Regions from separate parts of the Homo sapiens genome. Here all the other regions are linked to region 3. Evidence: fine-mapped expression QTL. A gene starts in region 3. Each other region holds a variant in brackets. All regions are shown on one strand. Distances are from middle to middle. Region 1 holds the start of MIR3713 (microRNA 3713). Region 2 overlaps ETFA (electron transfer flavoprotein subunit alpha). Region 3 holds the start of ISL2 (ISL LIM homeobox 2).

What was found. PIP is the estimated chance that this variant, and not a neighbour inherited with it, causes the effect. A credible set is the group of variants that fine-mapping cannot tell apart.
Region 1: its variant is the best candidate, but not a certain one, in a credible set for the expression of ISL2 in whole blood (INTERVAL, PIP 0.51).
Region 2: its variant is the best candidate, but not a certain one, in a credible set for the expression of ISL2 in whole blood (INTERVAL, PIP 0.53).

Annotation. Positions count from the first base shown.
Region 1 is chr15:76,585,040-76,587,802 of GRCh38, reverse strand. All of the region lies in intron 22 of SCAPER (S-phase cyclin A associated protein in the ER), which reads left to right. It overlaps MIR3713 (microRNA 3713), which reads right to left and starts at 1,156; the gene lies at 1,112-1,156. The variant A/G (reference allele first, on the strand shown) is at 1,196.
Region 2 is chr15:76,225,944-76,228,706 of GRCh38, reverse strand. All of the region lies in intron 10 of ETFA (electron transfer flavoprotein subunit alpha), which reads left to right. Among named protein-coding and RNA genes, the nearest start is that of ETFA, 84 kb to the left of the region's middle. The variant T/C (reference allele first, on the strand shown) is at 1,567.
Region 3 is chr15:76,335,625-76,338,387 of GRCh38, reverse strand. ISL2 (ISL LIM homeobox 2) reads right to left here and starts at 1,615. Exons shown (of 6, transcript NM_145805.3): 1 at 1,447-1,615; 2 at 421-610; 3 at 1-136. The coding sequence starts at 1,504. RefSeq lists enhancers at 295-1,106, 1,532-1,581, 1,275-1,774, 1,586-1,880.

The sequences.
Region 1 (2,763 bases), 250 kb before region 3:
ATCCTAGAACAAAGGGACTTAACAGATATTTCTACCCAACAGCCACAGAATATACATTCTATTAATCAGTTGTATGGAAATTTATCCAATGTAGACCATATGATAGGCCACAAAACAAGTCTCAATAAATTTAAGAAAACTGAAATTATATCATGTACTCTGTCAGACCACAGTGGAATAAAATTGGATATCAACTCCAAAAGGAATTTTCAAAACCATGCAAATACATGGAAATTAAATAACCTGCTCCTGAATGATCATTGGGTCAACAATGAAATCAAGATGGAAATTTAAATATTCTTTGAACTGAACAATAACAGTGACACAGCCTATCAAAATCTCTGGGATACAGCAAAGAGGAAAGTTGTTCATAGTCTTAAATGCCTTCATCAAAAAGTCTGAAAGAGCACAAATAGACAATCTAAGATCACACCTCAATGAACTAGAGAAACAAGAACAAACCAAACCCAAACCCAGCAGAAGAAAAGAAATAACCAAGATCAGAGCAGAACTAAATGAAATAGAAACCAAAAAATAAATACAACAGATAAATGAAACAAAAAGCTGATTCTTTGAAAAGATAAATAAAATCAACAGACCATTCTATTGATTGGGAAGATCCAAATAAGCTCAATTATAAAACGGGAGATATTACAACTGACACCACAGAAATACAAAAGATCATTCAAGGGTACTATGAACACCTTTACGTTCATAAACTAGAAAACCTAGAGGAGATGGATAAATTTCTGAAAAGATACAACCCTCCTAGCTTAAATCAGGAAGAATTAGGAAGCCTGAACAGACCAATAACAAGCAGTGAGATTTAATGATAATTTAAAAATTATCAACAACAACAAAAAAAAATCCAGGACCAGACAGTTTCACAGCTGAATTCTATCAGGCATTCAAAGAAGAATTGGTACCAATTCTACTGACACTATTCCACGAGATAGAGAAAGAGGGAATCCTCCCTAAATCATTCTATGAAGCCAGTATCACCCTAATACCAAAACCAGGAAAGAACATAAAAAAAAAAGAAAACTACAGACAAATATCCCTGATGAAGAGACCAATATCCCTGATATTTAGTAGACTTGAGCATCTGATTTTGGTATCCATCTGGGGATAGTGAAACCATCCCCAAACGGATACCAAGGATAACTGTATATGTAATATACACACACACATTTAT[A/G]CACACATATATATGTATGCATATGTATATACATTCATTTATTTATTTTCTAGCTCTGTTCATTGAAGAGGCATGAAAAGAATGCCCAACTCAGTAGCAAAGAGCATCTCTAGTGCTCACTGATTTGGGGTTTGAAATATCTTTTCTCAGTAAAAGAAACAAGAGCTTCTTGGGGAAATGGCTAATTCCTGATCTGAATGTCTAAATAAAGCCCTAAATTTATTTAATTAATTCCAGATATGAATGTCTCAAAATAGCTCTAAATTTAGACCATGTACCTTCCAAATAGAGGATATGAAAGGTTAATTAATTTATGTCTTCCTATCCATTATGCTAAAGAACAATCTTAGTTCCTAAATGGACCAAGTATCTTTTTTTACACTTTTACAAATCTTCTAAATGATCCTAGTGGACCACCCCACCACCCCATGCAAACTTAACTATGATAAAAGTTAGGAATTCTGGGAGAGATACTTTTACATTTCATATTTACCAATGACAGACTTGAGCTTAGAGTTGCTGAAATTTGTTCCAGTTTTAAGAAGAAAATATTGATCTTACAGCATTATTCACAAAACCATTTACCTGACAGATACTTCTCATATTCCTAGGTTGGGAGATACAATGCCTTCACTTCTTCTTTTCATGCTAGAAAAATTATCTGCCAGAAGGAATCCAAATAAAACTTTCTGTTGTTAAAAACTACACTCTCTAAGCAGCTCCTGTTTTTGCACTGTGAGGAAAATATAGCTCTCAGAGCTTGACTTCTCTGACATTCTATAATTATTTATAGTATGAATTAAAATCTAGTGCTTTTTTCTTTACAGGGGCTATTTTATTTGTTGTACTTCTGTGAAGGCAGGGAATGAGACAGGGGTGTAGCTCAAATTACCAAAGCATCCCCTTGATTTGGCATTCTTTCTTGAAGGATAGGTTCAGAATTGATTTACCTCAGGGTGAAATACAAGCCTCTTGTATTCTGTGAATTAAAATGGTCCTTGTGCCTCCCTCAGTACTGCTGATTTTCAGTCAAATGTCAGCATTCTTGTTAAGAATAGTGCTAGATTCATATATATCTGTTGCTATGGCTGCATATTTAGTTACATGGTATGCAGACATTAGCCAAAAGCTGAAGTGGCTACTTACCTATCACACAGTGAAGTTCACTGCCAATAATCTTCCACATAAGGTCAGTAACTTTAATTGGATGTGACTCTAGCCCATATTTGATTGGAAGGTAAAAGAAGTATGCTGCCATTACTCAACTTTTTTTTTTATTTTTAATATTCTCTTTTTCCATTTGTTAGATTGAGACATACTATCAGTGAACAGTAATAATAGTCGACCATTTATTGAATGTCTACTTTAGTGTGTGGTGTCAGGATTATTATAGTAATCATTTCTAACCTCCCAAAGCTCTGAAAAGAAATATATATTATCCTGACTTTTAAGATGAAGAAACTGAGATTCAGAGAAGTTAAATAACCTCCCCAGGGTTTATACACATGGTGTGTGCTGGAGCCAGAATTCAAGTATAGGTACTTTTGATTTTAGAGTTTCTATTTCTG
Region 2 (2,763 bases), 110 kb after region 3:
TTAGTAAGGAGGAAGAACTTGAGCTTGTGAGGAGCTATTGAGAGAGCTTTGGATACAAGCAAGACTTTATCATAGTTCTTTACAATTGATTATTTAGGAATATTATTTTAATAATCTGAAGAACAATAACCAGCCCCACATCTTTTTTGTTAAATACTGTAGTGGTTCCTTGCCCACAGTTATATGCTCTCTCTTTAAAAATAACTTTTAAGGCAGGCATAGTGGCACTGTAATCCCAAGGCACTGTAATCCCAGCGCTTTGGGAGGCCAAGGCAGGAGGATCACTTGAGTCCAGGAGTTGGAGAGTGGCCTGGGCAACACAGTGAGAACCCCATCTCTCCAAAAAATGAAAGAATTATCTGAGCATGGTGGTACACCCCTGTGGTCCCAGCTACTCAGGAGGCTGAGGTGGGAGGATCACTTGAGCCCAGGAGATCAAGGCTTCTGTGAGCTGATTGTACCACTGCACTCCAGCCTGAGCAACACAATGAGACCCTGTCTCAAAGTAATAATGATAATAACAATTGTTATATAGTATAATGAAAAAGCTTTCGGATGATTAAACTCCCAGATGTCTGACTAAGTGGCCTCTAGAAGAATAATTTACCATCAATAACTAAACAAATCTCTGCTTATCGCCGTGAAGCAGGTTACACATTCCCAAAAGAGAAACACGCCAATGCAAATCAACACCTGCAATTCAGAATGTTTGTTCTTGTGCCTTTGGATTTGAGGCTCACGTTTGAAACTTGTTTATTGTCTCTGACTATGCATCTTAATGTGTGTAGCATGTTTCTCTGGATTAGCAGTTACCTGGACTATACCATGTTCCAATCTTAGACATTCTGGCATCTTCTGCACATCTCTCTGAGGAACCCCTCTAAGGGAAATACACAGATGTTGGATATCCTGTAGCCTGTATTTTAAGTCAGGCTACATCAAAATACTTAATGTATTTTTTAATACCAGCTGTTTTCACAACATACAATGCCAGGTAGGTAGAAACTTAATTTTACTTCTAGAGATTTGAATTATTTTTAGTCCACAATCTATTAAAATAATACTACATTAGAGTCTAACTGCAGTGGTGTTAGAAGCATCTGTGGGGAATACCAAACTATTTGTACTGATAAACTATCTGATATTAATAAAAGAATGATTTGAATGATAGCTTTTCCTTTTTTTTTTTTTGAGACAGAGTCTCACTCTGTCACCCATGCTAACATACGGTGCACAATCTTGGCTCACTGCAACCTCCACCTCCCAGAGTTGAGCGATTCTCCTGTCTGAGCCTCCCAAACAGCTGGGAGTACAGGTGCGCACCACCACACCTGGCTAATTTTTGTGTGTTTAGTAGAGGTGGGGTTTCACCATATTGGCCAGGCTGGTCTCGAACTCCTGACCTCAAGTGATCCGCCTGCCTCAGCCTCTCAAAGTGCTGGGATTACAGGCATAAGCTTTTATTTTTTATTGTAGAGATGGGGTCTCCCTGTGTTGCGCAGGCTGGTCTTGAACGCCTGGGCTGAAGTGATCCTCCCACTTCCACCTCCCAAAGTGCTGGGATTA[T/C]AGGTATGAGTTACCATGCCTGGCCTGCATTTAAGAATATTTTTATAGCAAATAAGAGAAATGTTTGACAGCTTTTATAAGAGATATAAGTAATTTGCTTCTTTTATTAATCTATTTGCTATGTACATAAGGACTTAAAGCTGTTTAACGTCCCTTACTAACAGGCTGACAAGATACTTTAGCTTTCATATTGTTAGAATATCCCAGAATAATTGTTTTATTTTATTCTATTGTATTTTATTTTATTTATTTATTTATTTTTGAGACGGAGTCTCACTCTGTCGCCCAGGCTGGAATGCAGTGGCGCGATCTCGGCTCACTGCAACCTCCGCCTCCTGGGTTCACGCCATTCTCCTGCCTCAGCCTCCCGAGTAGCTTGGACTACAGATGCCCGCCACCACGCCCGGCTAATTTTTTGTGTTTTTTAGTAGAGACGGGGTTTCACCGTGTTAGCCAGGATGGTCTTGATCTCCTGACCTTGTGATCTGCCCACCTCGGCCTCTCAAAGTGCTGGGATTACAGGCGTGAGCCACCGTGCCCGGCCTATTTATTTATTTTTATTTTTGTTGAGACAGAGTCTCACTGCTGGAGTGCAGTGGCGTGATCTCTGCTCACTGCAACCTCTGCCTCCCAGGTTCAAGTGAGTCTCCTGCCTCAGTCTCCCAAGTAGTTGGGATTACAGGCACATGCCACCATGCCTGGCTAATGTTTGTATTTTTAGTAGAGACAGGTTTTACCCTGTTGGCCAGGCTAGTCTCGAACTCCTGACCTCAGGTGATTCACCCGTCTTGGCCTCCCAAAGTGCTGGGATTACAGGTATGAGCCACTGTGCCTGTCCTCCAGAATAATAATTTTAAAATAATAAATGAAGGACAAAATAATTTGCACTACAAAGGCTGTGGATTTGGGTATAGATTTGTTACTTTTTCACCTAAAATCAAATATTTTTTTTGTAAGTCAAAAGAAGAACTTTTAAAAAATAATGATTTTAAACTCTTTAATACTGAGATGGGCTAGATGTGGGTAAGAGAGAATTTTATTACATTCCAACCTGGAAATTTCTAATAAATTTACAGTGTTGACACAGATGCCTCAAATCTTATTTGGTAGACATTTTAAGAATATTAATATATTGGAAGTTAAAATAGAACTATCAGTCTGTGTGAAATGTTTTCTTGGTAAAAGTCAAACTCTTTG
Region 3 (2,763 bases):
GTCCCCAGGCAGCAGCTGGCGGCTGCACACGGAGCAGCGGAAGCACTCGATGTGGTACACGCTGTCCCGCGCCCTCATCACCAGGTCGCTGCTGCTGAAGCCCACCTGGCACTTGGCGCACTTGATGCCGAACAGCCTGCGGGCCCAAGGTGCGGCGGTGTCAGCGCTGGGCCTGCGGCCGCCCTCATCTCCCTGGCTGCTACGGCTCCGGCGCGCGCCCAGGACACTTTGTGGCCACCAGGAGACTGCGGTGACCCGCCTGCGGGCATTCCCGGGCCCGGGGGAGCGCTGCGGCACCCGTGCGGGATGCGGATGGCCTTCTCCCTGGGCAGGGCCGGGGCGCGCGGGCAGGCCGCCATCCCCAGTCCCGGCCCCGGCCCCTGCGCGCGGTGGCCCAGCCCGCGTTCCCGCCGGCCTCACCTGACATAGTCCCGCTTGCAGTAGGTCTTCCCGTCTCTCACGAAGCACGTGCACGTCTCGTCCAGGTACTGGCTGCACTCGGCACACTTGAGGCAGGCCGCGTGCCACTCGAGGTCGGGCGACACCCGCAGGATAAACTGGTCGTGGATCTGACTCCCGCAGCCCACGCACATGGCCGTCCCGGGCTTCTCTGCCGGGGAAGGGCGCGGGGCCGCGTCAGGCCTGACTGCCCGGACCCAGGCCGGCCTCGGCTACTCCAGCCCCAACCCAACCCGCTCGCTCTCTTGCTCTTTCTTTCAAGACTTGCGACCATAAGGAAAGATGATGAGCTCTCTAAAGGTCCAGGGCATTGGAAACGAAAAACCAGTATCTTGTGGATTGCTGAAGGTTTCTTCTGTCCCCCACCCCAAATATTTCGTTATTACATTCATTAATGACAGTCGTTTTGTCGACGTGTCTTGAAACTAAACGCAAACACGAAACTAAGAAGAGAGTAAATACACAGGCACTGCGGACGCCTGGATATCAACACCTAACGGTGCTGTCCTGGCATTTCCGCTCACACACTCCCACTCACAGCGGCTGCCTCCTATCCCAACACAGACACATCGTCTTTCGGCAGTCCCCGCTCATCCTCTCAGACATTTCTTAGTTTAAATATCCCAGAGCAAGCGAAAGAAAGCTTCCTAGCTTTGAAAAACCGAAAGGCAAACAAACAACAACCAAAAAAAAAAAAACCCACATCCCTAAATCAAACCTAATTGCCTTTGCGCAAAACAGAAGCAGATTTCGCAGCCCGAAGTCATCCTAGCCGGCTTGAGAAATAGTGTTTACTTATAAAATAAAACAACAGGATTCCCAAAGATAAGCAGTCCTGCAGGAGACATGCATTCGTTTTTCCTCTCCTAAACTATTCTGACAAATAGAAGCCACTTGTAGAATCCACTAAACATTTTTCTGCATTAGAAATTTTGCATATTAAGCATACACACACACCCCACCCCACACACACACAGAAATACTTACTCTTGGAATGATCACCCATAGCACCCAGAAAAGGATAATGAAAAATAATATCCACCATGCAGAAAAAGAGATGTGCGCAAAGTGTGCGGCCAGGGGCAGAAGGACGAGGGTCGCGCGCCCGGCCTCGGCTCTTTGCTAACTAACTCCTACTGCCCCGCGGAGTTGAAGGAGCGATTCCGCACCGGCCCGCACGCAGCATGACGTCAACACGCACTAGCCCCGGGCCGGAGCTGGGGGCGGGACCTGTGGCGTCACGAAGCTTCCCCAGAACTGCCGGGGATGCGGGGGAGGTGATGGGGATCCAGGGGCTGATGGGCGGGGTGGGTTGGGTTGGAGGCTGGGGGTGAAGGGAGATTGGCTGGGAGGAAGTGGGCCAACCCTGATTGGCCCGGAGTGAACAATGGAGTGCAGCCCCCCCACCTCCGAAACCTACAAGGATCCTCTCTCATGCCCCGGGCCTGGCAATCTGGACTGGACCTTGCGTCACCGCCGAGCTGGCTCCGCGGCCGTTACAACTCTGAGCTTCCTCTTGGACTTTCGGGGCGGTTTTCCCAGGCGCGCTGGAGCTGGGTGATGGATACCTGAGGGTGGAGATGGCTCTCCTTTAAGAGCTCCCTTCTTATATAAATTAAAAAAAAAAAAATTAAACCCACTCTCAGGACGAGAGAGCCGAGGACAAGGGGGATCCGTTTGGACGTGACCGTCATCGTCCAGCTGGTCACCTTTCTCCTCTCATGTGCCTTTGTTCTTCGGGTCCAAGCTAGAGAGAGTGTAGAGAATGACCACCTGGGTTCTGATAAACTCTATTTAGACTTTCCTATCCACACACACGTAGAAAACTTTAGATTGGGGCATTACGTGGGTTGAGCCAGAACCCAGATCCAAAAGCGCTCACCCGGGACTGGGACGGGTCCTGACTCCATCCTTGCTGCTGCTGCCGCTGCTGCTGCCCCTCCTCCCTCTCCTCCACCACCACCTCCTCCTCCTGCTCCACTTCCTTTTTTTTGTTGTTTTGTTTTGCTTTTAATTTGTTGCTGTTGTTGTTTTAAATGTAACATGGACTTCCCCGCCCCCTCATTTTTCCCCCATCCAAATGGCATAGCTCCTTTTAGGAACACTGCTGGGGTCGATTGCGTGTCCAACTTCCAAAATAAAAGATTTTTCTAAACTCTTGTCCTTCATTAACAAACCCACTGCAATGCAAATAATCAGAAACGAACGTAAGGCGCTGGGTAATTTACAGTGGTATCTGCGAGGCGGCGGCTCGTTGGTCCTGAGAAAATCTGAGAGCTCTGAGCACAGTCCAGGCATTCTTTC